Linked DNA regions of Homo sapiens. The protein of the gene in region 3 purifies or fractionates together with the protein of the main gene of each other region. This does not show direct contact. Each region holds a gene or a part of one and is shown on either strand. Other genes may lie near its edges.

Evidence for each region.
Region 1: the proteins of HCRTR2 (region 3) and FLT4 purify together in Homo sapiens (affinity purification with mass spectrometry; one large-scale study listed by BioGRID and IntAct). This does not show direct contact.
Region 2: the proteins of HCRTR2 (region 3) and IGDCC4 purify together in Homo sapiens (affinity purification with mass spectrometry; one large-scale study listed by BioGRID and IntAct). This does not show direct contact.
Region 4: the proteins of HCRTR2 (region 3) and PDS5A purify together in Homo sapiens (affinity purification with mass spectrometry; one large-scale study listed by BioGRID and IntAct). This does not show direct contact.
Region 5: the proteins of HCRTR2 (region 3) and FAM162A purify together in Homo sapiens (affinity purification with mass spectrometry; one large-scale study listed by BioGRID and IntAct). This does not show direct contact.
Region 6: the proteins of HCRTR2 (region 3) and DMXL2 purify together in Homo sapiens (affinity purification with mass spectrometry; one large-scale study listed by BioGRID and IntAct). This does not show direct contact.
Region 7: the proteins of HCRTR2 (region 3) and ATP2B3 purify together in Homo sapiens (affinity purification with mass spectrometry; one large-scale study listed by BioGRID and IntAct). This does not show direct contact.

What each region holds. Positions count from the first base shown.
Region 1 is NC_000005.10:180,639,127-180,643,433, reverse strand, and holds part of FLT4 (vascular endothelial growth factor receptor 3 isoform 1 precursor), read left to right. Parts: intron 1-4,307. UniProt on the Homo sapiens protein: Tyrosine-protein kinase that acts as a cell-surface receptor for VEGFC and VEGFD, and plays an essential role in adult lymphangiogenesis and in the development of the vascular network and the cardiovascular system during embryonic development.
Region 2 is NC_000015.10:65,384,340-65,388,646, reverse strand, and holds part of IGDCC4 (immunoglobulin superfamily DCC subclass member 4 precursor), read left to right. Parts: intron 1-60; coding exon 61-198; intron 199-1,990; coding exon 1,991-2,096; intron 2,097-2,587; coding exon 2,588-2,816; intron 2,817-3,531; coding exon 3,532-3,693; intron 3,694-4,227; coding exon 4,228-4,307.
Region 3 is NC_000006.12:55,173,036-55,177,931, forward strand, and holds the start of HCRTR2 (orexin receptor type 2), read left to right. Parts: upstream 1-1,479; 5' UTR 1,480-1,552; coding exon 1,553-1,775; intron 1,776-4,896. UniProt on the Homo sapiens protein: Nonselective, high-affinity receptor for both orexin-A and orexin-B neuropeptides. Triggers an increase in cytoplasmic Ca(2+) levels in response to orexin-A binding.
Region 4 is NC_000004.12:39,821,949-39,825,530, reverse strand, and holds the end of PDS5A (sister chromatid cohesion protein PDS5 homolog A), read left to right. Parts: intron 1-42; coding exon 43-46; 3' UTR 47-2,668; downstream 2,669-3,582. UniProt on the Homo sapiens protein: Probable regulator of sister chromatid cohesion in mitosis which may stabilize cohesin complex association with chromatin. May couple sister chromatid cohesion during mitosis to DNA replication.
Region 5 is NC_000003.12:122,400,584-122,404,890, forward strand, and holds part of FAM162A (protein FAM162A), read left to right. Parts: intron 1-2,176; coding exon 2,177-2,299; intron 2,300-3,674; coding exon 3,675-3,780; intron 3,781-4,307. UniProt on the Homo sapiens protein: Proposed to be involved in regulation of apoptosis; the exact mechanism may differ between cell types/tissues.
Region 6 is NC_000015.10:51,449,331-51,452,377, reverse strand, and holds part of DMXL2 (dmX-like protein 2), read left to right. Parts: intron 1-680; coding exon 681-733; intron 734-2,031; coding exon 2,032-2,249; intron 2,250-3,047. UniProt on the Homo sapiens protein: May serve as a scaffold protein for MADD and RAB3GA on synaptic vesicles. Plays a role in the brain as a key controller of neuronal and endocrine homeostatic processes.
Region 7 is NC_000023.11:153,555,619-153,559,925, forward strand, and holds part of ATP2B3 (plasma membrane calcium-transporting ATPase 3), read left to right. Parts: intron 1-430; coding exon 431-610; intron 611-712; coding exon 713-800; intron 801-1,298; coding exon 1,299-1,405; intron 1,406-2,493; coding exon 2,494-2,685; intron 2,686-4,110; coding exon 4,111-4,307. UniProt on the Homo sapiens protein: ATP-driven Ca(2+) ion pump involved in the maintenance of basal intracellular Ca(2+) levels at the presynaptic terminals. Uses ATP as an energy source to transport cytosolic Ca(2+) ions across the plasma membrane to the extracellular compartment.

The DNA.
Region 1 (4,307 bases), on a different chromosome or scaffold from region 3:
CACGCCTGCAATGCCCGGGAGGGGTTCTGCGGCCAGAAAGCATCCACGCCAAGCTGCTGTCAGGATGGTGAGGAGAGGTGGGGGCAGGGGCCTGGCACTCTCAGCCACCCCACCCACAGTGCCCTCCTCTTGGGCCCGCTCCTACTCAGTCTGCAAAGCCCATTTCAGCTCAGAATGGAGGCACTTGGTGACCGATTGGCTGTGGGGGATGAGCGGGGTCAGGAATGTCTGGTGGGTGAGCATCACCTGGACAGCCAACCTAGTGGGAGGGAGAGCAGGGTTTCCCACGCTGATGGAAGAGATGATTACATTTTGTAAAATGCAGAAATGCAAATTATACAGACATCTGTAGAATGAATAGTAGCTTCCCTTAATCCTGTCTTCCCAAGACAATATCTTAACGGTCATGTGTTTTGGAATGCGTTAACCTCTGTGTGCTAGCTTTCTATCTGTACAGTGGCAATACGGAGGCAACCGCAGGGGTGTGAAGGCATGTGGAATGCACACATGCGTAGGGCTGTGCTTCACATGGACAGTGCTCGGTGCACGCTTGCTGCTGTTGCAGCAGGAGGTCTTGGGAAAGGAGAATTTGGAGAATTTGCCATCGGTGTATGGATGCTGTTTATCATTACTGTGTGGGTGCCTCCTTCTCCACATTCTCTCCAGCGCTGGGAATTCTCATTCTTTGTGGTACTTGCTCCTCTGGCGGGTGCACAGTTGTGAGCTCCGTGCTTCCAGTCATCCTACCCAGTGTTGGATGTGGGCTGGGCTCGAGGTCTGGGGTCCTCCAGGACTGGAGCCCAGGAGAGCTGTCAGGGAGGGTGAGAGCACAGAGTGGGGTTGAAGCCCCCCGGTGTGCCACCATCGAGAGAGAGAGTACATCCAGCGAGCAGGACAGGGCCCGAGGCCGGCTGGGGACCTGGGCCTGCTTCCACGGCCTCATCACCTTTACCATGCTCCATCTGCTCCATCTACTTGAGGGCCCAAAGTCACCGGCACTCTGGCCTGTGTGCCCGCCTCCTGGGCCAGCAAGCTCCTAATCAGTCTACAATGCCCCTTTCAGCTCACATGAATCCTCTCCCACCAGCGAGGCCCCCATGCTCTGACGACAACACAGGGTCACAGTGATACAGCAGCTGTAGCAAACCAAGCATTCAGGAGGCAGGTGAGAGCAGAGGGATCCGTGTGCATGAGCCAGAGACAGCTTATTCTTTTTTTTTTTTTTTTCACACAGAGTCTCACTCTGTCGCCCAAGCTGGAGTGCAGTGGCGCGATCTCGGCCCACTGCAAGCTCTGCCTCTCAGGTTCACGCCATTCTCCTGCCTCAGCCTCTCGAGTAGCTGGGACTGCAGGCGCCCGCCACCACACTGGGCTAATTTTTGTATTTTTAGTAGAGATGGGGTTTCACCATGTTGGCCAGGATGGTCTCAATCTCTTGACCTCCTGATCCGCCCACCTTGGCCTCCCAAAGTGCTGTGATTACAGGCGTGAGCCACTGTGCCCAGCCGACAGTTTATTCTTAACCATGTTGTTTGTGGTCTGTAGTTCCCAGTCATCCTAGGGCCAATCCACATCTCACAAGTGGGAAGACTGGGGCTTGGAGAGAGGAAGTGATTTGCCCAAGACCATACAGCAAAGAGCGGCAGTGCGGGGTGCCCAGCCGGGCATGCGGGCTCAGCTCTCTCAGACCTGCAGGATGTGCAGTGAGGACCGACAGCCCCTTAAGCTCTGAAGGCACAGGGGCTGCTGGCCAGGTTAGCAGGGGCCACCAGACAGGACGCTCCTGCTGCCTCCCCCCAGGTCCCTGCAGAGGCCTGGCCCCAGGAGTGAAGAGAGGGTGCAGGTGACCCCCTCTGCCCAACCCCAGCTCAGCCAGCAGCTCCGTTGCTCCCCGCCAGCTCCCTCCAGTCTGCAGCCTGGCTTCTGGCTGCCTTTGTCCTCCTGGGCTCAGCTGCCCAGAAAGTGTGTGTCCAGCTGGCAGGCCTGCCACACAGTCCCCGTCTTCCCAAGCACCCCAGGGAGAGGGAGAAGTAGGGCCAGGCCCAGGGTGGCCACCGCAGGGCCATGCTCTCTGCCAATGTGGAGGGGCCCCAAGCTGATGGATAATCCCAGTGCCATCCCTGTGCCGGCTGTGTTGGGCCTGGGGACAGAGCCATGGGCTGATGACACCCCGGCCCAGGAGCCGCTTGATGACTCGGACCCTCCACGTGCTGTGGGTCAAGGCCAGAGTGGGGATGACATGCTCAGCTGGGGGCAGCAGTTTGCCGGGCACAGAGGACGAGGGAGGACAGAGGACACAGCCCAACCGGGCAGGGAGGAGCCTGCTGGAGAGCAGGGGCCTGGGAGGCTGGTGCTCAGGGTGATGGTTGAGAGAGATGGCAAGGCGAGGGCAGGGCTGCGAGGATGCAGCTAGTTCTACCCTCAATCTCTCATGCCGGCCCCTTCACCTCTGCACCAGGACCTGGACCCAGCCATGCCCTGTGGACTCAGCCATCATTCGGAGAGCAGCTCCCAGAAACCAGCTAAGGCCAGCGCTCACCCACACTGCCCCGTAGAGAGGGCCGGGACCCTGTCCCACCAGGGTATGGCACAGCCAGCCCATCTCAGTCCCATCCTGGTGGGCCCAGAGAGGATTTGATGAGAAAATATGGGTTCTGTACAGAACAAGGGACGCAGGACACGCAGGTGTGGAGCCGAGGGAGGGGCCGACTCCCACATCATGGGAGGAAAGCAAGGCTGGCTCTCCCAGCAGCTCTCACTGGGCTGGGCTGGGTTTTCCCTCCGTTTTCAGGAAAGAAGCTTTTGAAAAAAACGGCATCATTAGCTTAAAGGGCTTTGCCCTCAGCCAACTAGGGCATGAAGCCAGATGGAGGCCAGGCCCCAAGGAGGGGTGTGGTGGAGGCCACTGGGGCACAGGGCCCAGGCAGCCATGTGCCTCCTACGTGGGCCTTCCTGCCTGCAGGGGTCTCTGAGGCTTCATGCTAGGGGCTAGGAGGAAGGCCGGGCTGGGGTCTGGCCTGAGCCTCTGCCCCCGGCCTTTGGAGGGGAGCCTGGTCCTGGGGCAGGGACCGACCTGGACTCAGCCAGACTGGGCTCCCACGTGGCCACCTGCTGCTGTGAGGCCTGGCGCCTCAGTTTCCTCACTCGCTGACCTGGCTGTTGAGCCCTCCCTCCCAGGCTGCTGTGAGGATCAAATGAGGCAGTCGCAGCCGGCCGGCTGCCCCCCACCTCGCTCGCTGCTAGTGCCTAACCCATGGGACGTTCCCCCACCCTGCCTGGCCCTCATGGAGGGGTGCCAGCACTGCCCAGGGGAGGTGCAGGACCCTCCTGTGCTGCTCCCACGCCCGCCACGCCTGTGGCTGACGCCAAGGCCCCGTGGCCCGAGGACGGAGGGTGTCCTGGGGCTGCTGACAGTACAGAGAAGAGGAGGTATGCATTCTGGCCTTTCTGACCTCCACCCGGTGCCTGCCCCAACCACGCTGCTGCAGGCTTGGGAGCCAGGGCTTTGCGGGGCCTCAGGGAAGGAAGAAGCCAGTTCCCGGGCCAGGAACAGGAAGGCAGGGGGAGCGCAGCAGAGGCCAGGATGACAGTGCTTCCTGCTGCGGGAAGGGAAGGACAGCAGAGACAGACAACAGCCAGGCAGGAAGGATGCGCCTTCTTCAGGGCTGCAGGTGGGGGCTGGGCAGTCACAGAGCCTCTGGACGTGGCAGGCTGCAGGCCTGAATCTGCCCAGGGAGCCCATCCTATAAAACAGGAAGCATCTTTTCCAGTGGAACAACAGGGTCTGACAAGAGTCTCTGAGGTTTCAGAGGTCTGTTGAGCCATCCATCCATCTACTTTCCATCCATCCAACCATCTAACCATCCACCCATCCATGCTTCACCCATATGCCCACCTTTCCACCATCCATTCATCCTTCCATCCAGCCATTCGTTCATCCTTCCATCTGCCCGTCCATCCATCCTTCTGTTCAATCTACCCATCCATGCATCCTTCCATCTGTTGATCCATCTTTTTATCCACTCATCCATCCGTCCATCCATCCATCCATCCACCCATCCACTCATCTACCTGTCCATCCATCCATTCATCTGTCTGTCCATCCATCCACCCATCCATCCTTCTACTCACCCACCCATCCACTCCTCCACCCACCCATGCATCCATCCATCCATTCATCCATCCATCCATCCGTCCACCCATCCACTCATCTACCTGTCCATCCATCCATTCATCTGTCTGTCCATCCATCCACCCATCCATCCTTCTACTCACCCACCCATCCACTCCTCCACCCACCCATGCAT
Region 2 (4,307 bases), on a different chromosome or scaffold from region 3:
ACCTCTGCATCCACCCACCCCATCCACCATCCCTGCTCTCCCTGCCTCCCTCACCCCCAGGAAACATCTTCAGTGCTGAGGTCCATGGCCTGGAGAGCGACACTCGGTACTTCTTCAAGATGGGGGCGCGCACAGAGGTGGGACCTGGGCCTTTCTCCCGCCTGCAGGATGTGATCACGCTCCAGGAGAAGCTGTCAGGTATGAGCACAGGGCAGCCCAGGTTTCCCTGGATTGACTTCCAAGCCCCTGCCTGTGGACACAACTACAATTTCATTGTTTTGCACAGCTGTCCTCCAGGTTTGGTGGGGGCAGAGCAAATGTGAAGGGGAAATAGGTGTGGTTCAGTGATAACTTGATTCAGAGGCCAGGTTCGTGGGGGACTGGCTTTTTTTTTTTTTTTCTGAGATGGAGTTTCACTCTTGTTGCCCAGGCTAGAGTGCAATGGCGCAATCTCGGCTCACTGCAACCTCCGCCTCCCAGGTTCAAGCGATTCTGCTGCCTCAGCCTCCCAAATAGCTGGGATTACAGGCACACACCACCATGCCCGGCTAATTTTTGTATTTTTAGTAGAGACAGGATTTCACCATGTTGGCCAGGCTGGTCTCAAACTCCTGACCTCGTGATCTGCCTACCTTGGCCCCCTAAAGTGCTGGGATTACAGGCGTGAGCCACCATGCCCAGCCAATTATTGTATTTTTTAGTAAAGACGGGTTTTCACCACATTGGCCAGGCTGGTCTCAAACTCCTTACCTCAGGTGATCCACCCACCTCGTCCTCCCAAAGTGCTGGGATTACAGGTGTGAGCCACTGCATCCAGCTGGGACTGGCTTTAGAGACCAGTTTCTTTGGGAAATTGCTTTGATTGGAGGATTAACTTGGTGAGGTGATGAGCTTTATGGTGTGGAGGTGGACAGCAGGACTGGCTACGTAATTTCCAGGGCCCAGTGCAGAATGAAAAGGTGCTATCCCTTATTTTAAAAATTAGAGGTCGGACGGCCAGGCGCGGTGGCTTATGCCTGTAATCCCAGCACTTTGGGAGGCCAAGGTGCGGGCGGATCATGATGTCAGGAGATCGAGACCATCCTGGCTAACACGGTGAAACTCTGTCTCTACTAAAAATACAAAAAAAAATTAGCTGGGCGTGGTGGTGGATGCCTGTAGTCCCAACTACTCAGGAGGCTGAGGCAGGAGAATGGCGTGAACCCGGGAGGAGGAGCTTGCAGTGAGCCGAGATCATGCCACTGCACTCCAGCCTGGGCAACAGAGCGAGACTCCGTCTCAAAAACAAAAACAAAAACAAAAAAAGCTAGAGGTCGGGCATGGTGGCTTGTGCTTGTAATCCAAAGTGCTTATGCACTTTGGAAGGCTGAGGTGAGAGGATCACTTGAGGCCAGGAGTTGGAGACCAGCCTGGACAACATGGTGAGACCCTGTCTCCACAAAAAATTTAAAAATTATCTGGGTGTGGTAGCTCATGCCTGTGGTCACAGCTGCTTGGGAGGCTGAGGTGGGAGGATCACTTGAGCCCAGGAGGTTGATGCTACAGCGAGCCGTGTTCATGCCACTGCACTCCGGCCTGGGTGACAGAGCAAGACCCTGTCTCAAAAGAAAAAAAATTAGAATTTTAAGGTGGTGACAGCAGAGCATGAACTCAAGCGTGGGGTCCATCCAAGCATGGGGTCTGCGCACCTGCACATGTTGCACACCCATGCAACAGCCCTGGGAGCAGGCAACACGTGCTTCACCAAAGGCCAGTTTGAGGCAGAGAGACCATAACTTCTGGGTGTGTTTTAGGGAGGACAGTCAGAGGGAGAGGTAGTAGTAGTTTCTGTGAGGCTCAGGGCCCTCCTGTCCTTGTATCAGAAGATTGTGAGCATCTGAAGGGTGAGGGTCCAGCTGGTGTCTCCTGAGAAAGCCATGGATAGTCCTGATCTATGCCCTGTGCCCTTCCTCTGTCCTGACCTGCTCTGTGCCTCTCTCTCCCCCACCAGACTCGCTGGACATGCACTCAGTCACGGGCATCATCGTGGGTGTCTGCCTGGGCCTCCTCTGCCTCCTGGCCTGCATGTGTGCTGGCCTGCGCCGCAGCCCCCACAGGTGAGCAGGGGAGCCAGTCTGACTTCAGGGAAGGGAGACTTCCAGGAAGGGCTGCAGAATGGGCCATCAGGGAAAGTGGCCATGACTTGCCCTTGGCACTCCCAGGAGCCCCGTTAAAGTCAGGACTCTGGGATGAAGGAATCAGGGATGATGTCCTCCTGAGAATGGGGAGTGGACTTAGGGGAGCCCCAGCCTACCCTCCTCAGCAAGGCCAACAGAACTGCCTCACTCCCACTTCCTCTGTAGCTGCCAGCATCTTGGAAAGAGGGGCCCCAAATCTCCAGATGCCTGCAGCCAAGGGAAGAAGAGCCCTGTTTACAGCATCAGGCTGTTTTGAACAATAGCAGTTTTTCTTACTCATTGCACAGACCAGGAAAGCAAATCCCAGAGATGGGCAGGAACCTCCCCAGAGACATAGGCTGGACCAGATCCCAGCCCCGCCTGACCCCTTACTCTGACCGCTATGCCTTGTTTTCCGTCTTCCCTTCCAGGGAATCCCTCCCAGGCCTGTCCTCCACCGCCACCCCCGGGAATCCCGCGCTGTACTCCAGAGCTCGGCTTGGCCCCCCCAGCCCCCCAGCTGCCCATGAATTGGAGTCCCTTGTGCACCCCCATCCCCAGGACTGGTCCCCGCCACCCTCAGACGTGGAGGACAGGGCTGAAGTGCACAGCCTTATGGGTGGCGGTGTTTCTGAAGGCCGGAGTCACTCCAAAAGAAAGGTAAGTCAGAGCCCCACATTGCGGCTCTTTTCTAAATAGGACACCAGGGGGCGACAGAGCACAACGCGTGGCTATGCGAGCATGGCTCTACCTCCTCTTCGGAGCCGGCTGCGGACGCTAGGGCCTCTCTCCCTCCTCCACGGAATGGTTGGCTGTCAGGGAAGCACATGGGCCTCCATATCCCGGCGGAATAGGTCAGCTTGGTTCTCACGAAGGAAAGGGCCTCCCAGCAGGTGACCCAGGGTAGCCAGAACACCCAGCTCCCTCCTCATCCCTGGAGCTGGGGAGACCTCTGAGACCCAGACATCCCCGTGTGGGGAGAAGAGGCCAGTCGGCTTGGCTGTGGCCAAGTGGGACTGGGACCAGGATAAGGTGAGGCCTTCGCTGGGCTGGTCCCTTTCATGCTGGCAGGGGCGGCACATCCCACCCAACTCCGACCCGTCCTCCCTCACCCTCTCCCCGCCTGGCTCGGACACCGCGGGCTTTGCAGAGCGTCTGGTGTTCCGCTCCTCTGCAGGAGGACTCATCCTCAGATTACCCCGCTGACTCTGAGCCCTTTCGATGCTCCTCCCCAGAGCCTTGGAGAGGGAGAGAGCAGCGGGTGACAGTCTGGACCCTGCTCCCCCGCGGCCCATCCCAATTCCCTCCCCCGGGCTTCCCTCTCCCAGCCAATCCTGGTCGTGCCCCTTACTGTCCCCTTCTTTCCCCCGTGCAGATCTCCTGGGCTCAACCAAGCGGGCTGAGCTGGGCTGGTTCCTGGGCAGGCTGTGAGCTGCCCCAGGCAGGCCCCCGGCCGGCTCTGACCCGGGCCCTGCTGCCCCCTGCTGGAACTGGGCAGACGCTGTTGCTGCAGGCTCTGGTGTACGACGCCATAAAGGTCAGCGTCCTGGAAGGAAGGGGCAGGAAAGGAGGAAAGGGTCTCTGTGCTTGTGAAGAGGAAGTAATGAGTTCTCTGGAGACCCCTGGGTGGTAACTTTCCTGGGGATAGAAGTCTAGCCAGGAGACCCCTGGAGCCTCCAAAGGTTGAGTAGGTGGAGGGCAGGCCAGTTTGCAGGAACCTGTTTCAACCTGGGTTGAAAACAGCCCCTCCTCTACCCAGACCTAAGTGGGCCACAGCAGTTCCGTGGATCTGAGGGTGTGGCTGGCCTGAGTACGCTCAGCCCTTCCTCCTGTCCCCAGAGGCCCTGACTGAGTCTGGTACTCCTGAAACTCCTGGATGAGGGCAAATGGGAAGTATTCCATCATTCCCTGCCTTTGTATAGGTTCGAACAGTTCCTGTGTATCCTTCACCGACTCCCATGTGATACTTACTCTGATGGAGGGTCAGACTTTCTGCCCCACGTACGCTGGTCATTCTGATGATTACTCTCAGTAATGGTCACTTTGTCTTTGTGTTCTCTGCTCTGATCAGGGCAATGGGAGGAAGAAGTCACCCCCAGCCTGCAGGAACCAGGTGGAGGCTGAAGTCATTGTCCACTCTGACTTTAGTGC
Region 3 (4,896 bases):
GTGGGAGCTACTGTCATTTGAACAACATTGAAAAGAAAAATACTAAAAAAGAAACATGAGGGCATATAAAGGAGCGCTGGGGCTGTGATGTTTATTTTGAATCTGTGAAGCATTGTCATGTGGAAGATTTATTCTGTGTAGCACCAAGATGCAAACTAGGAATTAGAGGTAAAAGTCTCAAAAAGACAAATCGTGGCTTGAGACCTTGGTTTAATGTAAGAAACAGTTTTCTCACCCTTAGAGCACTCCCATAAGGATGGAAGTAGTGAATTGTGGTGGTCACATTCAAGCTAGATGGGGACATGTCAGCAATGTTATCAGGAGGCTTCTACTCTGAAGCTGAAGTTCAGACAAGATTTCCAGGCTCTTCCCAAGTGCAAGATTGTAATTACTTAAATGCAATATTTTTACCATGTTTATTAAGAATAAAAGGATCATGAATTCACATTCTGACAAATGCTAGAATACTTATTATTAGAGACAAAACCAGTGCATGAGAGAATGGCAGGTGACATCAGCCCTGAATCAATGGGAAGAAAGACCCAATGGGATGTGGTATTTACCAGAGAGAGCACTTCTGCTTAGATTGCTACATCCTACAGTGAATGTTTAATATCATTGAGTATATTGGTGGTCTGTCATGCTTGACAACATTAACTATGATCATATTTATGACACTTGGCGTCCTTCAAGAATTTGTAGCTCTATTTCACATGACACTTAACTATCGCAAATACAAATTCCAGCTAAATAGACCCTTCAGTTTAAAAACAGTCTCATTCTCAAATTTTAAGGAGAAAGTGAAGACGGAGATGTCTTAAAGACTCGGCAAGTACTAAGTTGGCAAATGTCAAATGTTAAAATAAGTTTATATTAAATGTTAAAGTGTTTGCCTGGAATGACTTTTCCATTGTCCTGCTTGAGAAACACAGAGGCACCTCCTTATTGCTTTTATATTTGCTTTACAAAGACAAATGTATCAACATGCTCTGTATTAATTGTATGTTGACATTTTTGTCATATCCACAGACTGATGCATGTCTGTGCATGGTTTATAATAAGTGCACGTAAAAATAGAGAAAATAAGTAGAAAAAGAGAGAGATTTAACTCTCACCCCCCACCCCCCAAAAAAACAGATTAAATTAGTTTTCATTACTTTTTTTTTTTTCTTCAGCTTCAGCTCTCCCTCAGCGAGGGAGGAGGCTGTGGGCTGCGGACTGAGTGCTGGAATGAGGAGTAATTGAGCTTCAGCTGAGCCGGACGTAGCTTTCTCCTCCTGGTGTCATTGCTGCAGCCTCCAGTGCCGGGTCCCTAGTTCCTCAGCTGCCTATCTTCCCGGTGCAACATCGCCTGTAAAGACAGCAAAGCCACCGCAGAAGTTGCCCGGCAGAAGACTCCGGAGGCATTGGCTCAGTAACTTTTCACGTCATTTTCTGCTCGGGAGCCCCTTCTAGCCTCTCCGCGCAGCCTTTCCCACCGCAAATCACCAGTGCTCATGGGGCAGGCGGAGAGGAGCTTGCAGCATTGAGCGGAACCGGACTTGAGCCCGTGATGTCCGGCACCAAATTGGAGGACTCCCCCCCTTGTCGCAACTGGTCATCTGCTTCGGAGCTGAATGAAACTCAAGAGCCCTTTTTAAACCCCACCGACTATGACGACGAGGAATTCCTGCGGTACCTGTGGAGGGAATACCTGCACCCGAAAGAATATGAGTGGGTCCTGATCGCCGGGTACATCATCGTGTTCGTCGTGGCTCTCATTGGGAACGTCCTGGGTGAGTCTCCTCCCGGGCAGCCCTCCTAGGGGCTATCACCCCCTCTCCGCCCCGGGCTGAGAAGGCTCTAAAGAGACCCCTCCCTCCCCCGGGAAGCAAACAAAGAGGTCGCTGCTCTCGGATGGGGTTTTCTAATAAAATAATAATAATAATAGAAAGTTTTCTGATTTTCCGAACCGGGACCGAGCCCTGGAAAGGTTATTCCCTGTTTTGCAGGAATAACGGGGAAACCGCGTTTCTTTTTCGAGCACCTAGATTACAAGCGCAGGGAGAGGGGCCGCGGCAGGGATCTCCAGGTGGATTTTGTTGAGTGTGTGTGTGTGTGGGTGGGTAGGTGGGGGAGTCAGTCATCCCTTTGTGTAACGTGGCTGGGTGTTTCAGGGGGGTTGGGACGAGACAGAGCTTGCAGAATACAAAGCTACATCCCTAAGGAGCAAGCTCTCTGTGGCTGTGGAAGTCACAAAGCATTTGTGAGCTAGGTGGCATTGCCCTTTGGCGAGGAGGTTTAGTCTCCAGTCAAGAGGTGGTAATGAACCAGCAGGGAGTGGAGACGGAGGCAAAGCAGGGAAGTGCACTCACTCATAGAAGCTGAATTAAACAGGATCCATGCCTGGAGCAAGAAGGAGGGGCATCGGAGAAAAGTACCACAGAGATCTCAATCATCCATCCATCCATTCATTCTTACATCCATTCAGCCAAATATTTTTTTTTTTCAGTCTGCTTGTTGCCAGGCTCAGGAATTATTCATGTCAACTGTTTGTTGTTGTTTTGTTTTGTTTTGTTTTCTCCAAAGATGAGACTAAGCTTAATGCTAGGCTATTTGTCCCGGTCTAGGTCTGTATGCAAACACGGGTTTCCTCGACCCCTCATCCCCCTCCCCCTAAACAATTTCTGAGGGTTGGGGAGGGGGTGAGATGGCAACATGGTGAGTGCGATGATGGAATGTATTAGGGCAGTTGGGGAATATACCTCCAGAAAAGGGGCTTTGGAAGGGAGGGATAACTTGAAATAAATTGTGAATGGAAGGAGAGTGTACCTTGATGAATGAAGAGTAGAAGGCTGGGAGACTTTTCACATGCAGAGGGCAGTGTGGAGGAAGTCTCTGCTGAAAATGACAGGAGATGGAGGAGGCTAGGAGTTGCTCTTGATTTTCATTTATAAAAGAAGAAGAAGGTGAGTGAGGTGAGATAGGCTGGGAGGCTTTGCAGTCAAAAGCAAAGAACTTGTAGCTGCAATGGGGACTGACAAGGAAATTATCAGGCTTTCAGACTAACCTGATTTTTGCCTTCTCTCCCAAGTGTGTTGGTCTGGGTAGAAATCATCCCGAGTAGTCTCTCACCAACTCAGCAGGCAGAATAGATGATAGTATGTGAATGACAGGAGTTCTCCAGAGTGTTGGTAGAATGTTATTTGAGGAGACAAGAAACCTCTGAGAACTTTAGTACATTTTTAAATATTATTTTTAGACTGTTTTCCTTTGGTTGATTTAAAAGTAAAAATAAAGGAAATCTTTTTGGGATACTAACAAAATGAAACAAAAGTGGAAATACACAAGATTAGGATTCTTGTTATAAGCATAATTCTGTTGATAATAATCCTAATCTTGCTTTCCTTCTTCTTGTTACCCATCCTTAGGATTACATCTCTTAAGACACATGGCTACCAGCATAGCAACATTTTACTGCATTATGCCAACACTTATTGATAAGTGAATAATCAAAATTGAACATATATTGAGTACCTACTGTGTGCCAGAGCCCTTCATGTACATTCTCTCCCTTAAATATCAAAATAACCCACATTAGCCAGAAGAAGAAACAAGACTTAGAGAAATAAAATGACGTATTAAGGGACATAATTTAAATTCAGTTCCATTTTTTCTGACCTCAGATCCAGAATTCTCCATTGTTATTCCACTCTAGAGCTAAAAAGCATATAGAGAATAGATTCTCTGCTCCTGATTGTCTGCAAGTTTATTAGATGTGTTCCTGTTCTCCTCTGCATCAACGCCCACTGCCAATAAAGTACAATGAGGGATTAATGGCACTGTCATTCTCTTCACCAAAAACCTTTCCAGAGAAGCAGTAATTTTTTTATGAATAGCTATCAATAGTAACTATTTGCCTTCCTTATTTTAATTTTCGGCTGAATCTTTGTGGTAAAATGTGCTCTTCTTTGTTGTTATTGCATTTTTACCTTGCATAGACCTTGTAGTGAATAGTCTCCATATCCTAATTGCATAGTTTAGGGATACATGTTTGCTAGCCTGGGGAGTTTTAGTTTCAAGAAGGAAACACCTCTACAGTAAGGCTACTTGTTTCATAATGTCAAGGAAGATAGCACTGTCCACAGCCCCAAGTGCTGAAATGGCCAATTCCATTCAGCCTAAAAAGAAAGATTTACTCAAAGCACTCTGCCTTAAAGAAACTGACAGCTATTTTCCTCAGGACTGAATAACACTGAAATCCTCTCTGGTTGAACTGAAATGCATTCTTTTCTGACATACTGCCTGAAAGTTGATGAGGTTTAGGTTTGACATTTAAACAAACGAGTAGTGTCGTTACTCACAGACAACTTCCTGCTCTTTGATGTCACTGTCAAATTTGCAAAATGAATTAGATTGAGAATTGCTTCTTTGCCCCTCTGGTATAAGTAATTTTGCACATAGAGTGGTAGGACAGGATGTCACATGATTTATGCAAAATAAAGATGCAATATTAAGTATGAAGGTAAAATACCACAGTGTAGGCAGCAGATGTAATCACTGAGCCTTCAGGTCCAGTCACCATTTGTACTTTCATATAACTGCTTGGAAAATCTCAACCTTTTTGGGCTTACAAATATAATGCCATCAGTTAGAAGTCATCTTCTCCACAATGTCCTTTCATGAAGTGATGTAATAGGATATGCTGTGGGTAGCATAACAAAGTCTTGATTGTCCTCATCTCTTTTTCTTCTCCCCATAGTCCCTCTTTATCACTATGCCACCTCTCCACTCTCATATACTCCTCCCAAAGATGGAAAGCAGTTTCCTGGGGGAGTAAAGTTTTAAATAGAATGTTATGAGTATTTACATTCAATGAAAAGCTGTAAGCATGTTTAATGTGAAATTTTAAGTTCT
Region 4 (3,582 bases), on a different chromosome or scaffold from region 3:
TCCACATCTTTTCTAACTTTGCGTTCTATTCTTAACCCTAAGGTAAAAATGCATTTGCAAAGGGAGAAAATGAAGGCCAAACAGAAGCAGGCTCCAGCTTCTGCAAAAACTTGGATTCACAAATGTCCCTGAACAGAAAATGAAGCTCACTTCAGAACACACACTCTCTGCCTTGAAAACTAAAGAGACTATTACTTCCTTTTCACATGACCACAAGTCCTCTGATGGAAATGTACAGCAGAAACTCTTGAGAGAGAGGCTAAAAGCAACTCTGTTCTCCCCCTTCCCCTAGACTTTTCTTACGAAAAGTCAATAATTAAGCAAATTGCTTAACACTTGGTTCCAGTTCCTGCCTATCTGGAGTTTAAATGCGTAATACACCATTAATTTCCACGCTGCAGTTTTTATTTTAAAGAAAGTAACAAGATGTCTTTACACTGACACTGAAAATTCATCCATTTTAGAGCCAGGAATTCCCATGTTACACAGGAAAAAATAGAAGTCTACTGAATTAATTTTTTAAAAGAAAAGAGATCAGATTAAATATTTCTTTGTTTTTCCTTTTGGAAACTTTTATGTATAATTCTTTCTGCCTGCCTACTTTTCTGCAAAAATGAGATGTACAGATTTCGGTTCCCTGCTATGAAAAGTGATGTGGTAGCAATTTTATAAATGTTGCTTTCTGATTTTTATCAGAGTGAGAAAATTAAAATTATTGATTTGCAAGTAGTAAACAGTTCATATTTTGATTTCCCCTCATTTTAGTTTAATATAATTTGCAATAAATGTACATATTGTTGTTTGTTTCATAAAGCATATCACTTTAAAATGGTTTTTACTCCTGTGATTATGTTGGAATATTTGGAATTTTAAAGGAGTAAAGACTGTCCAGCATTTGGTTTTATAATGTTTGTCACCAGATTTTTATTAATGTAAAAAAAATCAATTTTTAAAAAATAGTTGGACTTTGGCAGCTTTTAAGGAAAGTTGGAGGTGTTTTAGGATTGCTATCAATTTTCAGCATTGTGCTATTTGGAAATAAGTGTTTTGCTTTTGTCTGATGGTCTGGGCTCATTTTTATGTTTATTTTAGAAAACTGTTGCATCAATATATTATGTTTCTTGGCATTGTTCAGCATAGGTAATGTGTGCACTTTATGTGTACACATAATCATATTTAAGTTTTTTGCATAAAATAAATGCTTCTAGATGTCATGGCAGTCTTTTTAATCTTTTTATCATATGCTTTCTTGTGAATTTTTTCATGTTAAAGAGCTAAAGTCATAACATGATTACAGTCAACTCTCCATTATCTATATAAAATAGTGACTAAGCCTCAGGTTTTTAATTTTGTGATAACAAAATAACGAAGGCATGTAAGACCTGATTCTGGAGGAACATGAAATTTGTCTTTTCTCATGTCCAGAGTTCTATCCTGCCCCCACTGTCCACTGTAGGGTCATCCGCAAAGCCCTAGCAGAATGTGCTCACTCCATTTCCTTACACGTTTCTAGCATGGGTCAGAGGAAACAACATTTGTGTTATAACTTCGTCTTGATAGGCTGTAGTGTACATGGGATGTAAAACAAACAAGTGTATCAAAGGTGGATGATTCTGTTAGAGTGAAGTTTGAGAGTAAATGTCACTTACGTTTCTCATAGATAATCAAGAGTTGGCTGTGTATTGACTGAAAGATGGGTAATTATTTTAAATATGCATTTACACACATTTAGGTATCAGAAGATGCTTAGGGAACAATGGATACCAATGATAGAAAATGATACCTTTACAGGGGCAGAAAAATCCCCACTCTTCCTTATTGCCTCTTCAGAACCCTTTAGAAAGTATAAAATATTGCCTCCAACATGCTGAAAAAGAGTATCTATGCATAAGTATCAGAGAAGTCCCTCAAGCAATCAGTAGGTGTGTTCTATTTAGAGAGAGTTTAAAGTTCTCTTAGCATCAGACAACTTGATTCCTAAGGTTTCCAGTGTGTCACCAACAAAAAGTGCATTGATAGGGACCTTTGTCTCTTCCTCCCTTTGATTAATTGCCCGGCATCACAGTTTACTAGATTACCAAGTGTTACATCATATTAAATAAAATGTAGCAGAACCATCTGCATCAATATATTCCTGTTTAGATTTTTGCAGGAGAGAAGTTAAAAGGATTTGCTCCTTGTATGATGTAAGTGGCCCACCCCAATTTTGTAACATGATGCAAGTGTCTGGCACTAAGGGAAGCAAGAGTAGGGTTGTGGAAAGACCAAGCTGATGGGGAGGGACTTGTTTACGGGAATTTTTTTAGTTTTCCTTTTCAAAGGAAAACATTAAAATCCCTTAGGAATTTGGTATTCACATCTCAGAGAACTACAACACAAAAGTGCAGACTTATATTTGAGAATTAATGTTAACCCTTTGTGTCTAGTTTGAAGCTTCTTGTATTTGTCTAAAACAACAAGCCAGAATTTTGTATCTCCTTTGATAAAAAGTGTGTATAATGTAAAGTAGTTTTGCATATTCTTGTGCTGCACATGGGCTGAATTTTTAAATTTTTTTTAAAAACTTGAAGCAGAACCTTGTAATTTGTGTAAATGACAAGTGTAAAATCCTACCATAAAATGCTAAAAATATGCACTGTTTCAAATAAAACCAAGAAATGCAGCATTATATAGTAGTGTGGAGCCCTGAATATTCATGTACCCCTGGTATGTCACAAGTTGATAAAATGTCTCTGCATATTTTCTGTTGAGATGCTGGAGTCTGAATATCCTAATTAGAAATCAAAAGCCACCTTCAAACTTCCTGGCTGGGTACTCTGAGGTAGCTTACAGTGGCTAAGGAAGAACATAGTGGATGATAAATTCTGAGGCACATTCGGAATTTCCAAACGAGGTTTGTTTTAGGGGGTGGCTTTTTTTTTGAAATGAGATCTTACCCTGTTGCCCAGGCTGGAGTGCAATGACATGATCATGGCTCACTGTAGCAATCCTCCTGCCCCAGGCTCCTAGAAAAGTGCTGGGATTACAGGCCTGAGCCACCAGACCTGGCCAAGAAGTTATTTTTTTAACCTAAGAATTTAATAGCAGCCTTTGATTCATATTAGTCTATGGTTCATCCATTCATTGCAAGTTCTGCACTCACATATTTAGTTCCATAACAAATTCAAGAGAGCAAGCAGATTACATAAATGTATCTGGAGTAAGAGGTGACCAGAACGAGAGGTAAGAAAGTCTATCATGGCTGGGCGCAGTGAGTCACACCTTTAATCCCAGCACTTTGGGAGGGTGGCCGAGGCAGGTAGGTCACTTGACCTAAAGAGTTCAAGACTGGCCTGGGCAACATGGTGAACCCTGTCTCTACCGAAAATACAAAAATCAGCCGAGTGTGGTGGTGCACACCTGTAGTCCCAGTTACTCAGGAGACTGAGGTGGGAGAATCCGTTGAGCCTGGGAGTCGTCGGTTGCAGTGAGCCAAGATCACACCACTGCACTCTAGCCTGGGCAACAGAGCAAAACTGTTTCAAAAATAAATAGGCCAGGCGTGGTGGCTCATGGCTGTAATCCCAGCACTTTGGGAGGCTG
Region 5 (4,307 bases), on a different chromosome or scaffold from region 3:
GGAGGCCGAGGCAGGCGGATCACCTAAGGTCAGGAGTTTGAGACTAGCCTGACCAACATGGAGAAACCCCGTCTATACTAAAAATACAAAAAAATTAGCTGGGCATGGTGGCAGGCGCCTGTATTCCCAGCTACGTGGGAGGCTGAGGCAGGAGAATCACTTGAACCTGGGAGACAGAGGTTGCGGTGAGCCGAGATCGCGCCACTGCACTCCAGCCTGGGCACCAAGAGCGAAACTCCATCTCAAAACAAAAAAAAAAAGACTGAGAATATCGTTACTATATAGAGATGTTCATTGGGGAGAAAGTCAATAGAGTCTTGAATATTCTCGTGATGTGCAGAATAATTGTGTAGAGATTATTTTAAATCATAAATACATCTTATATCTTAATATCTTAAATATGTTTTGTTTTCCATATATACTTAAGATATTTCTATGAAAATGTCTTATCCTAATATTTGCCAGCAAGAGTCTTGTGTAACCTTTTGAAAGTTGAGTAATAACTGTAATGCTGCTTTGCTTATTTTTCATAAAACAGTGATTTTCTTTAATATATCTGAAAATGCATTTTTCATTTATTTTTTCTTATTATTATATGTATATATCAAGTGTGGCATTTGAGAGTCTGTTGATAAAATTTACAAAAGTAGAATTACAATTTTATGTTAATGATGAAAGAATGACTTATAATATTCACCTGATTGTATCTCTTATTTTGTGTGCTTTTGTTAAACATATGTCGATTTATTTTGCCAACATGATTATATAGACAGAGAACTCCTTTTCTTTCAGGTTGGTTCATGTGATCCTGGTTAATGGAACATAAGTGAGATTTTATGGGTGACAGGGAGAGAGATCAGGCTTGACTTGAGAGCACGTGGGAAAAGAAGGGGGCTATCTCTTCGCAAAGATTTAAGTATCTTATAAGAACTGTTTGCCAGTGCAATTATGAGTAAGTGTATTTGTGCCTAATTTTTATTTTTTAAAAGCTCAGGTGATTATAATTTCATCTGTGAAATGTTGGAAGTATAGTCTGATTAAAATAGTATATATCTAAAAAAAAAAAATAGCCATTCTGGCTGGTTGTGAGATGGTATTGCATTGTGGTTTTGATGTGCATTTCTCTAGTGATCAGTGATGTTACTTTTTCTTCTGTATGCCTGTTGGCTGCACGTATGTCTTCTTTTGAAAAGTGTCTGCTCACGTCCTTTGCCCACCTTTTAATGGGCTGGTGTTTTTTTTCTTGATAATTTGTTTAAGTTCCTTATAGAGCTGGATATAGACCTTTGTCAGATGCATAGTTTGCAAAAATTTTGTCTCATTCTATAAGTTGTCTGTTTGTTGATAGTTTCTTTTGCTGTGCAGAACCTGTTTAGTTTCTGCACAGTAAAAGTTAAATTTATTAGATCCCATTTGTCCATTTTTGCTTTTGTTGCAGTTGCTTTTGGCATCTTCATCATGAAATCTTTGCCCATTCCTATGTCCAGAATGGTATTGCCTAGGTTGTCTTCCAGGGTTTTTATAGAGGTTAAATGGTATTTATTAGCCATATAGCGATCATTGTTGAAAATGGGTGATGAGTATATAGGGGTTCGTAATGCTACTATCTGTGCTTTGAGTTTAAATTTTTAAAATAAACTATATATATTATATATATAGTTTTAAAGTTATATGTAGTTCAAAACTACATCTAAAATTGATTTCTAATTAAGGACTTGTGGCTTGCAAGGAGCAAGGCTTTCTAGAGTCACTTGCTGACCACTGCAGCCCCCTAACCAGTTTATCAGCATCGTATTGGCAACTTGGTTACCTAGTTTATCACTTTTGGGAGGTTACTAATCTTTACTTAAACAGCCCTGATGCCATAATACATAATATTGCCACCAGAGCCATTGTTATGATAAGACACATGTGGGAAGTACTTATTTAAAATTTACAGCTGATAACATTTTTATGTTGTAAATTCCTAATTTCCTAATCAATAAAACATTTATATTTTAAAACAGCATCAAGCATAGCACTTTAAATATACTATGTGTATCTTACATATAGTAAATTCATTTCCTAAATGAACTACCTTTTATAAATGAAACGTAACTTGCGGGTATTTCTTATTTTGAGAAAACATCACATTTTCTTTCTTTCTTTCTTTGAAACATTTTCCTCTCTTTTTTAGGAAGCTGTTTTAGGTTATGTGAAAGAGATGTTTCCTCATCTCTAAGGCTTACCAGAAGCTCTGATTTGAAGAGAATAAATGGATTTTGCACAAAACCACAGGAAAGTCCCGGAGCTCCATCCCGTAAGTTTTTATTTTTTCTATTTATGGAGTTGGTAGCTCCCAAAGAGTAGGAAAACTTGGAATCAAAAGAACCCAAAAGAGAAGAGGTTCCTATATCATACCCTCCCATGTAGAGAGAACACATTGTGTTCACATTGTGCATGTGCACATGACCAATATGAGCACAACATGGGAGGCCTGAGGGAGGCCCATGTTCCTACATCATACCTCCCATGTTTTACTCATATGCAGGCCCATCTTCCTACATCACACTTCTCATGTTTTACTCATACGTAGGCCCATGTTCCTACATCATACCTCCCATGTTTTACTCATATGCAGGCCCATCTTCCTACGTCACACTTCTCATGTTTTACTCATACGTAGGCCCATGTTCCTACAGCAGACCTCCCATGTTGTATTAATATTGGTCATGGGCACATGCACAGTGGTTTCTTCATTTTCAGCATTTGTCATTTTCATCTTCTTGCCTGTAGGGTTGGACTGGAGCTTTCTGTAGGAGAATGGATGCACCAAAGTAAATAGTAGTCCAGAAATTATGTTTTAAAGAACTCTAAAGATGAACCAAATTAAGATATTATGCGTTAGGTAAAATATAAGCAGGGCCTTCTCCTTATCACCCTCACTGGCTCTCCCTTTGCACTGATTTTTATCTCTATTCCCGACTTATTAATGAAATGACTCAGATGGCATATATTCCCTTCAGAGTCAGCAAATCTTTAAGTAGTATTCATGCTCTTTCCTTCCCCAACTGGGTCTTTTCCCGTCTTCTTTTAGTTACAATACTGCTGTTGTCTTAGTCATCCAAGTTTGAGGTTCTTCGTGACTCCTTCCTCTTTGTCTTAACCAGTCTCCACATTCTTTCAGTCATCCTCAGACTGACCTCATCTCTCTTTCCACTGCGACAACTCTGGTTCAGAGAATATCCGCTCACCATGGTATTACAGGCTCCCATTTGGACTTTTTGCCCACTCTACCGTGTCCCCCTTTTCTGTCTCCATCCATTGTACAGATAATAAGCCTTCCTAAAACATTAGTTTCTTCCTTGTTTCAAAATGTACAGTAGTTCCCAATCAAGTCTAAACCCCTTAGCCTGACATTCAAGATCTGGTAAAATCTGATTGTACCTTACAAACTTTTTCTTAGTCTGCTGAAGTCAGACAAGCTCCTCACCGTTTCCTTGGGATTTTATAATCTTATTTGGAAAATGAAGCATCCTAAGAAATTCCATTCAAATAAAGTTCTAATTAACTTGAGGTTTCTCAGTGTTTCTGTTTAGTGACTAGTTAAAAAGCACTAATACCATTTTTCTGTTGTTAAATTTGAGAGTTATAATCTCAAACACATAAAATTTCTTGTCTGGTTTTTCTCATAGGCACTTACAACAGAGTGCCTTTACACAAACCTACGGATTGGCAGAAAAAGATCCTCATATGGTCAGGTCGCTTCAAAAAGGAAGATGAAATCCCAGAGACTGTCTCGTGAGTGCTGAATTTAGTATTACAAGCAGCTTTCATTTCTCACTGATCTAAGGGAAAAGCAATGCCTCTGAGTTCCAACTGTTTAAAACTTTTCAACCAAATTTGAAAACATTTTTCACTTTTCCAAATGTTTTATCTTTGGTAAGTACTTGGAATATAAACAATGCTAGAAAACCTGTGTCTTATCATTGTTAAGTTACACAGTGACTGGTGAAGAACTGTCAGGTACTCTGAAGTCAATTGATTATTTGATTTCATCCCCTGGCTACAGAAGTGTGACTTTTTTAAAGTTTGTTTTTAATCTAGGTATATAAATTAAGTACCATTGACAATGACTGTATTCCCCCAAATCCACTTAAGTACTCAACCTTAGGTGTAAAAGTATTTAATTGCAATATTCTGGAATTCAGGAAAGAGTGCTTCCTGTCACCAACTTCCTTAAACCTAAGGGAAGGGATCTTGGCTGGGATCATGGAACTTTTTCAGAGTTTGTAGATGATGAGTGCAGGTTCCTCCAACCCAGTTTC
Region 6 (3,047 bases), on a different chromosome or scaffold from region 3:
CCCTTGTCAGATATATACATTGTATTTTCTCCCACTCTGCAGGTTGCCTTTTTACTCTTGCTGTGCAGAAGTGTTTTAGTTTAATTAGGTCCCATTTATTTATTTTTGTTGCATTTGCCTTTGGGTTCTTGGTCATGAATTCTTTAAGTCAATGTCTAGAGTAGTTTTTTTTGATGTTATCTTCTAGAATTTTTATGGTTTCAAGTGTTAGATTTAAGTTTGACCCATCTTGAGTTAATTTTTGTATAAGGTGAGAGATGAGGATTCAGGGACTAACAGGTATTTGACACTGTCCCCATCATTCTCAACATTTATTTTGACCTCACATGGTTTTCATTAGCAACACATGCCCATGAATAACATCTTGTTTCCCTGCAGTGGCTACCACCTGGGGATATAAAAGCATTCCTTATACTCAGGAAGTCATATCAGTTTCCTGGAGTGGCAATGGAAAGGAGATGGGGTAGAGGATGCAGAGACGGGCAGGACCATGTGAGATGGAACTGTGTAGTTTGACCCTACCCCCATCCTAGTTGGGAATCACTACTCTCTATAGGTGTGAGTGAACAAAAAAGATAAGAATGAATAAGCAAAATATTTGACTGAAAGACAGGTTGTCCCTGATGACGACTTATAACAATCATTTATGATGTATTTTTGTTATTGTGTTTCTTTAAAAGAAATGTTTGCCTCTGGGACACATTAATATCACCCGGAAACAGCCTCATTCATGGTGAGTTAAGGTCTATGATTTTTAAAAATATACCATGAAGGAATAATACACCATGAAGGAATGCTTTCTTGGTTTTAATTAGTGAATCCAGTGAGTGTTTATTGACAGGTTGAAAATGGAGAAATATTTAGAATGAATGACTAAAAATTTGGAAAGTTAATTAGCATATCTGGCTTCCTTGCTGAGTTAAAGATATATGGTCTCAGAAATCCAAAATAGTCTTTATATTCTATTCAGAAAATATGGTATGGATAGTGGTACTACTAACAAGGCTATTTAAGAAATTAGTTGCAAAGTATTCATTGAGCTTAATAGAAAATAACATATTTTAAAGAATTAAACCTCATCATAAAATACTTTTTGTCTTTTTTTCCTTTTTGTGGAGATCAAGGTCATGCTGTATTGCTCAGGCAGGTCTCAAGCTCCTAGGGTCAAGCTATCCTCCCACCTCTACCTCCCTAAGTACTGGGATTACAAGCATGAGCCACCACACCTGGCCCTAACCATAAAATAAAACAAAGGTTAACCTTATTATAATGACTAGAAATGTAAACAGTGCCATTTAAATATTATTCCTTTTAAGACAATACTTGCCAAATTAGTGTCCTAACTCTGTCTTCCACATAGTACCACCCAAAAAGTGCTCCATGCTCAAGTAAGTTTGGTTAAATGAAGTAGATTGTCAGAAAGACAGAAAGATTCTCAGTCTTTTAATACACTGATATGCATTTTGAAATATGTAGTTAATTCTCAATTTTATTGCAGAATTCTGCAAACAGTGGTTAACATTGCTTACAGATTTTCTGCATGTTAATTTGAATCTTTAATCATATTAAAATGCAAATACTCCTGGGAAGGATAATGAACTTCTTAACTTGTAACTGAAAACATTCACACATTTTCTCATAGTGTCGTTGTTTCAATTACTTACCTGAAAAGAACTTTTTGTACGGTACAGCACTTGGCTGGGTTAATACTCACCAACTTTGAGAAGGTTGGTCTCTGCTCTTCTGTATACTTTTTATGAGGCAGTATCACTTAGGGCTTAAGGTTTAAACTTTCTTTTTCTCTCTGTGTTCATTTCATATTGAGATTATGGATAAAAAGTTTGTTCTGACATTGCTTAACATTTTTCTTTAATCATGTGATTACAGAAATTCAATGACTTACAAAACAATAAATGTACCTTAGAATGAAAAATGCATCAGTAAGGTCTGTATTTAAATGTGGATGTAGACATCATAATTACCAAGACAAGAAATTGTTTTGAGAAATTCTCTGATGTTTTTCTTCTTCAGGTTTCACGTGCCACGATCATGGTGCCACGGTACTGCAGTATGCACCCAAACAGCAACTCCTAATCTCGGGGGGTAGGAAAGGACACGTCTGCATTTTTGACATCAGGCAAAGGCAGCTCATTCACACGTTCCAGGCCCATGACTCAGCTATTAAGGCTCTGGCCTTGGATCCCTATGAGGAATATTTTACCACAGGTTCAGCAGAAGGTAACATAAAGGTGAGTCAGTACAAGAGGTTGGAATGTGCTAAAGACTGATTGGAAAGAGAAAAAACAAAAACTCCACATTCTTTGAAATAAAGCTTCACTTTATTTCACTTGGGCTACTGCATGGAGATACTGCATATCTCAACACTCTGCCGCCTCCCCATGCTCCTGTATGGTTCTTTCTAAACTGTTATGGTCAATGAGATTATCAAACTCATTGGACTCAGGCCATTAGAAAGCTTTAAAGCATTCTATTTTGAGTAAAGTGTATGAGTTTAATGCATGAAATTTTTTGATGACATTAGTTTGGCTCCTTAGAAGCTTCTCCCCTCTCCCTCAGTACTCTTGTGTGTGGTGGAGGTGACGTTTCCAGTAAGTGAGCTAGTGCAGATGCTCCTTGACTTTATGGTGGGATTATGTCCCAACAAACCCATTATAAGTTAAAAATATTGTTAAAGTTGAAAAACATACTTTCAACTTAATATTTTCAACTTACTATGAGTTTATTGAGACTAACCTCAGGATAAGCCAAGGAGCGTGCTGAATGCGTATTGCTTTCACACTGTCATAAAGTCAAAAAGTCTTGTCAAACCATCGTAAGTAGGGGACTGTCTGTACCACACTACTTTTACATAGCCTTAGGACCTAGCTCAGCATGAGGAACACATTTAACTGAATTAACTCAAATAGTTAATTGAATTAGAGATGGGCTACATATGGTTAATATGAAGCCACAAGAGGATGTGAAGGAAAATATGGAAGGAGGACAGTAAATGAATCGTGGGAGTGGTGTTATCATTTCCCACTTAG
Region 7 (4,307 bases), on a different chromosome or scaffold from region 3:
CCTGGCTTCCCGCTCTCAACCCCTTGCAGGCTGTTCGCTTTCCACTCAGCACTGGGGAACCTCTTTCTCTTTCTCCAGAATCTAATGTGATGCAGGTGGTCCCCAACTTTTAACAATTTTGTAACTTGGTGCAAAGGTGATGCACATTCAGCAGAAACTTTACTTCGAGTCCCATGCTTTTCCCTTTCAGTGCAGGATTCAATGAGTTACATGAGATAATCAGCACTGTATTCCACAATAGGCTTTGTGTTCAATGCTTTTGCCCAACTGTAGGCTAACACAAGTGTTCTGAGCACGTGAATCGGATGGCTTTACTCTCACCTCTGCTGGACCTTGGGCCACCTGCAGATCTGATGGAGGAAGGGGTACTGCCTCAACCCAAAATACGTCTTGCCTCGATGGCCCCGCCCACCTCTCTTGTCTCTTCTAGGTCCCTGAAGCTATCCGAAAATGCCAGCGTGCTGGCATCACAGTCCGCATGGTGACTGGGGACAACATCAACACGGCCCGGGCCATCGCAGCCAAATGCGGCATCATCCAGCCCGGGGAGGACTTCCTGTGCCTAGAAGGGAAGGAGTTCAACCGGCGGATCCGCAATGAGAAAGGCGAGGTAGCACCCGGCTGTCTGCCACCCCAGACCCCCCTTCTCCTCACCCCAGCCCCCTGCGTGCCCGCCTTAGCTCTGCAGCGTCCTTGTGCTTCCCCTCCCCAGATAGAACAGGAGCGGCTGGACAAGGTGTGGCCCAAGCTGAGGGTGCTGGCCCGGTCGTCTCCCACCGACAAGCACACACTGGTCAAAGGTAGCCGAGCCCCCACACCCCTTTCCTGGGGTGGCCAGCCCGAGGTTGTCTGCTTCCTGACACCAAAAGCCAGGTTCCCAAACAGGTCCCCAGGGCCTGCCTAGGAAGCTGGGTCCATTTGTCCCATTAGCCCAGAGCAGCAGGGCAGGGGCCCATGAGGGAACCAGGGTTCGGGGAGGGCTAGTGACTCACTCCAAGTCACACAGTGAGTCTCTAGAAGCAGTGGGTCTAGAGCCAGGGACCCAGGATTGTGTCCCCAGGCCCTAACCAGATCCCTATCCTCCCACCCTGGCCCTGTCACTCAGTGAGATTTGCTTACTTATTTGGGGATAGGAGATGATCCAGGTGACGGGGAGCACAGATAATTGGGACAGTCAGGACGGGGTAATCCCAAAGGGTTTTCACAGCCAACCTACCCCCATAGCTCCCTGGGCAGGGCTACACAGGGTTGTGGTGACAGATGGCCCCAGCCCTGCCCTGCCCTGATCTGTCTTCCAGGGATTATCGACAGCACCACTGGTGAGCAGCGGCAGGTGGTGGCTGTGACAGGGGATGGCACCAACGATGGGCCGGCCCTCAAGAAGGCGGACGTGGGCTTCGCCATGGTAAGCCACCTGGTGCCCGCCCAGCTCACCACGGCAGATGGGGCCTGCATCTGTCCCATGGACATTAGCTTTGTACCAGGAAGTGGGAGCCAGTGTCGGGGCAGGTTACAGAGTGCCTGAAGGTTCTTTCTTTCACATCCTGGCCACTTGGGCCTGCGTGGGCTCTGCCAGTCGGGGGACATGTGGTTAAAGGCATCTGCTGTGATGCCCAAGGTGACAGTGGGCCCCAGACATACTGTGGAGAGGAAGGGGAATGGGGGGTGGGGGCTCATCACTGATGGCATTGCCCACCCCCGTCCTCTCTAAATGGACTCTCAGCCCCAGATGAGGTGAGCAGAGTCCCCAGATGTGCTCTTCCTCTGCACTTCCTTCCTGTTGCTCACCCACTGAGCAGGGTAGCCCTGCAGACGCCACCCACATGGCTGGTTGCGGCCCCTCAGTGGCCCCACAGCCACTGAACGCAGCAACCTGGTGAGCCCCTCTCCCTGCCCTACCGAAAAGGAGTGTCACCCAGGGAACCCAGCCCAGTCCTTCCCAGCACCCGTAGCCCAGAAGGGAGCTCCAGCCCAAGCTTCGAGAGGTGGCAGCTCTCACGGGGCCAGGCTTGGGGCAGAGGAGAGGACTGCGCAGCTTGGCACAGCTGCAGCTGCGCCTCCATGGGACAGGGACTCCTCTGCAAGGAGCCGCCCCGCCCAGGGTGTCCCCATGCAGGACTTCCCAGGGCTCCTTAGCCAGCAAGCCTCTCTGGAGTGCTAAGAACAGACCACGCTGCTTGGTGGCCACGTGGTGGCAGCTGGGCTTTATGTGTAAAGCTGTGTTGATGCCATGTCATCAGCACCCTCTGTGTTTATGAGCAAAGCCCCCCCCCCCACCGTGACATGTGACAACTTACTGTTTGTAGTACAAGAATGTGTTGCATTAAAAAAAAGCAACAAAAAACAGTGCTGTTCTTGGCTTTGGGGGGCGGGGTGGGATGTTATTCAGAAGGGGAGAGCAGGGAGCCAGCCCAGGCGGGCCAGGTGATCAAGGGGGGCTGGGGAAGGGGCCCCCACAAACACTCTGTGTGAGTGTGTGTGTCACCCCCCCAGGGCATCGCAGGGACCGACGTGGCCAAGGAGGCCTCCGACATCATCCTGACCGATGACAACTTCACCAGCATCGTCAAGGCAGTCATGTGGGGCCGTAACGTCTATGACAGCATCTCCAAGTTCCTGCAGTTTCAACTGACGGTCAATGTGGTGGCTGTGATCGTGGCCTTCACAGGTGCCTGCATTACTCAGGTGGGTACTGGGGGCTGCCATGCCCCAGCTAGGACACCTGGGCTCAGGCCTGAGGGCCAGATTGTGAGAGTGAGGGTTTTGTTTTCTTTGCTGCAGATTATTTTAATTGAGATCAAATTCATATGCCAAAAATTCACCATTTTCAAGTACATAATTCAGCACTCGAATTTGTAGGACATTCACCACGTTGTGCAACCATTGGCTCTATCTAGTTCCAGAAGATTGTCATCATCTTAAAAAGAAACCCTGTGCTCTTGAGCAGTCATTTCCCCATTTCTCCCCCAAACATCCCAGCCCCCGGCAACCACTCACAGGCTTCCTGGGTCTATGGATTTGCCTGTTCCGGACATTTCATTCCTATGGGATCAAATAATATGTGGCCTCTTGTGTCTGGCATCTCGCTTAGCACCGTGTTTTCAGGCTCACACACACCGTAGCATAGGGCAGGACTTTCTGCCTTTTCATGGCCTCATAACACTCCACGGCACAGACTGCCACATTATGTATGTCTGCCCTGATGGACACATGGCTCGTTCCCACTTTTTGGCTCTTGTGAATGGTGCTGCCAGGAGCATCTGTGTATGAGTTTCTGCGTGGGCTATGCGTCCCATGGGAACCCTTTCTCAACAGTCCCATTTTCCCCATTGGTGAGTGTCCAGATTTTCTTCACCCCGCCTTAGAAAGGGGGTGTTTAAATTGCCTGCTGATCAACTTGGTCTTTTCAAAACAATTTTTTAAATTGAGATAAAAAATCACATAACAAACTTCAACAGAACCATTTTAACCTTTTGAAAGTACATAACTCCGAGGTTTATATCCCTCCACTGTCTATTCCCAGAACATTCTCATCACCCCAAAAGGACACCCAGACCCCGTGAGCAGTCACTCTCTACTCCCCAAACCCCAGCCCCTGGCACCCACTCATCTGCTTTCTCTCTCTATGGATTTGTCAGTTCTGGAAGTTTCCTATGAATGGAATCAGACAGTACGTGGCCTTGTGTGTCTGGCTTCTGTGAGGCTGATTTTTAACGAACAACTCAGAGGAGCTGAGAAGGAAGGTCCAGTTCAGAGTTTCTGCCTCCTCCTGCCCCTGAGGTGCAGGAGACAAGGAGAGCAGCCCTCACTCTGTTGCCCCAAATGGCAGACCCCATCGTCGGGCTGTTTTGTGGTCTGGGGTTTTTCACCTCCTGCGAGGGATTTGGAGCACACCTGCTGCCAGGTGAGAGAAGGGAGGCGGGCACGTGACAGCCCAAAGAAAACGCCCCACTAGCGTAAAGGCGATGTAGGGATGGAGATGTCTGTTTTCATGGGCATGAAATCCTGGTGATGTGGACCCCATGAGGAGCCCCCAGGAGCTACTGGGTTTCCACCCCCAACCTTCCCGGGCAGGCGGCCCATGGAAAGGTGACTGCCTCCTCTCCATAGGACTCTCCTCTCAAAGCCGTGCAGATGTTGTGGGTGAACTTGATCATGGACACATTTGCCTCTCTGGCCCTGGCGACGGAGCCACCCACAGAGTCGCTGCTGCTGCGGAAGCCGTACGGCCGCGACAAGCCCCTCATCTCCCGCACCATGATGAAGAACATTCTGGGCCACGCCGTGTACCAGCTCGCCATCATCTT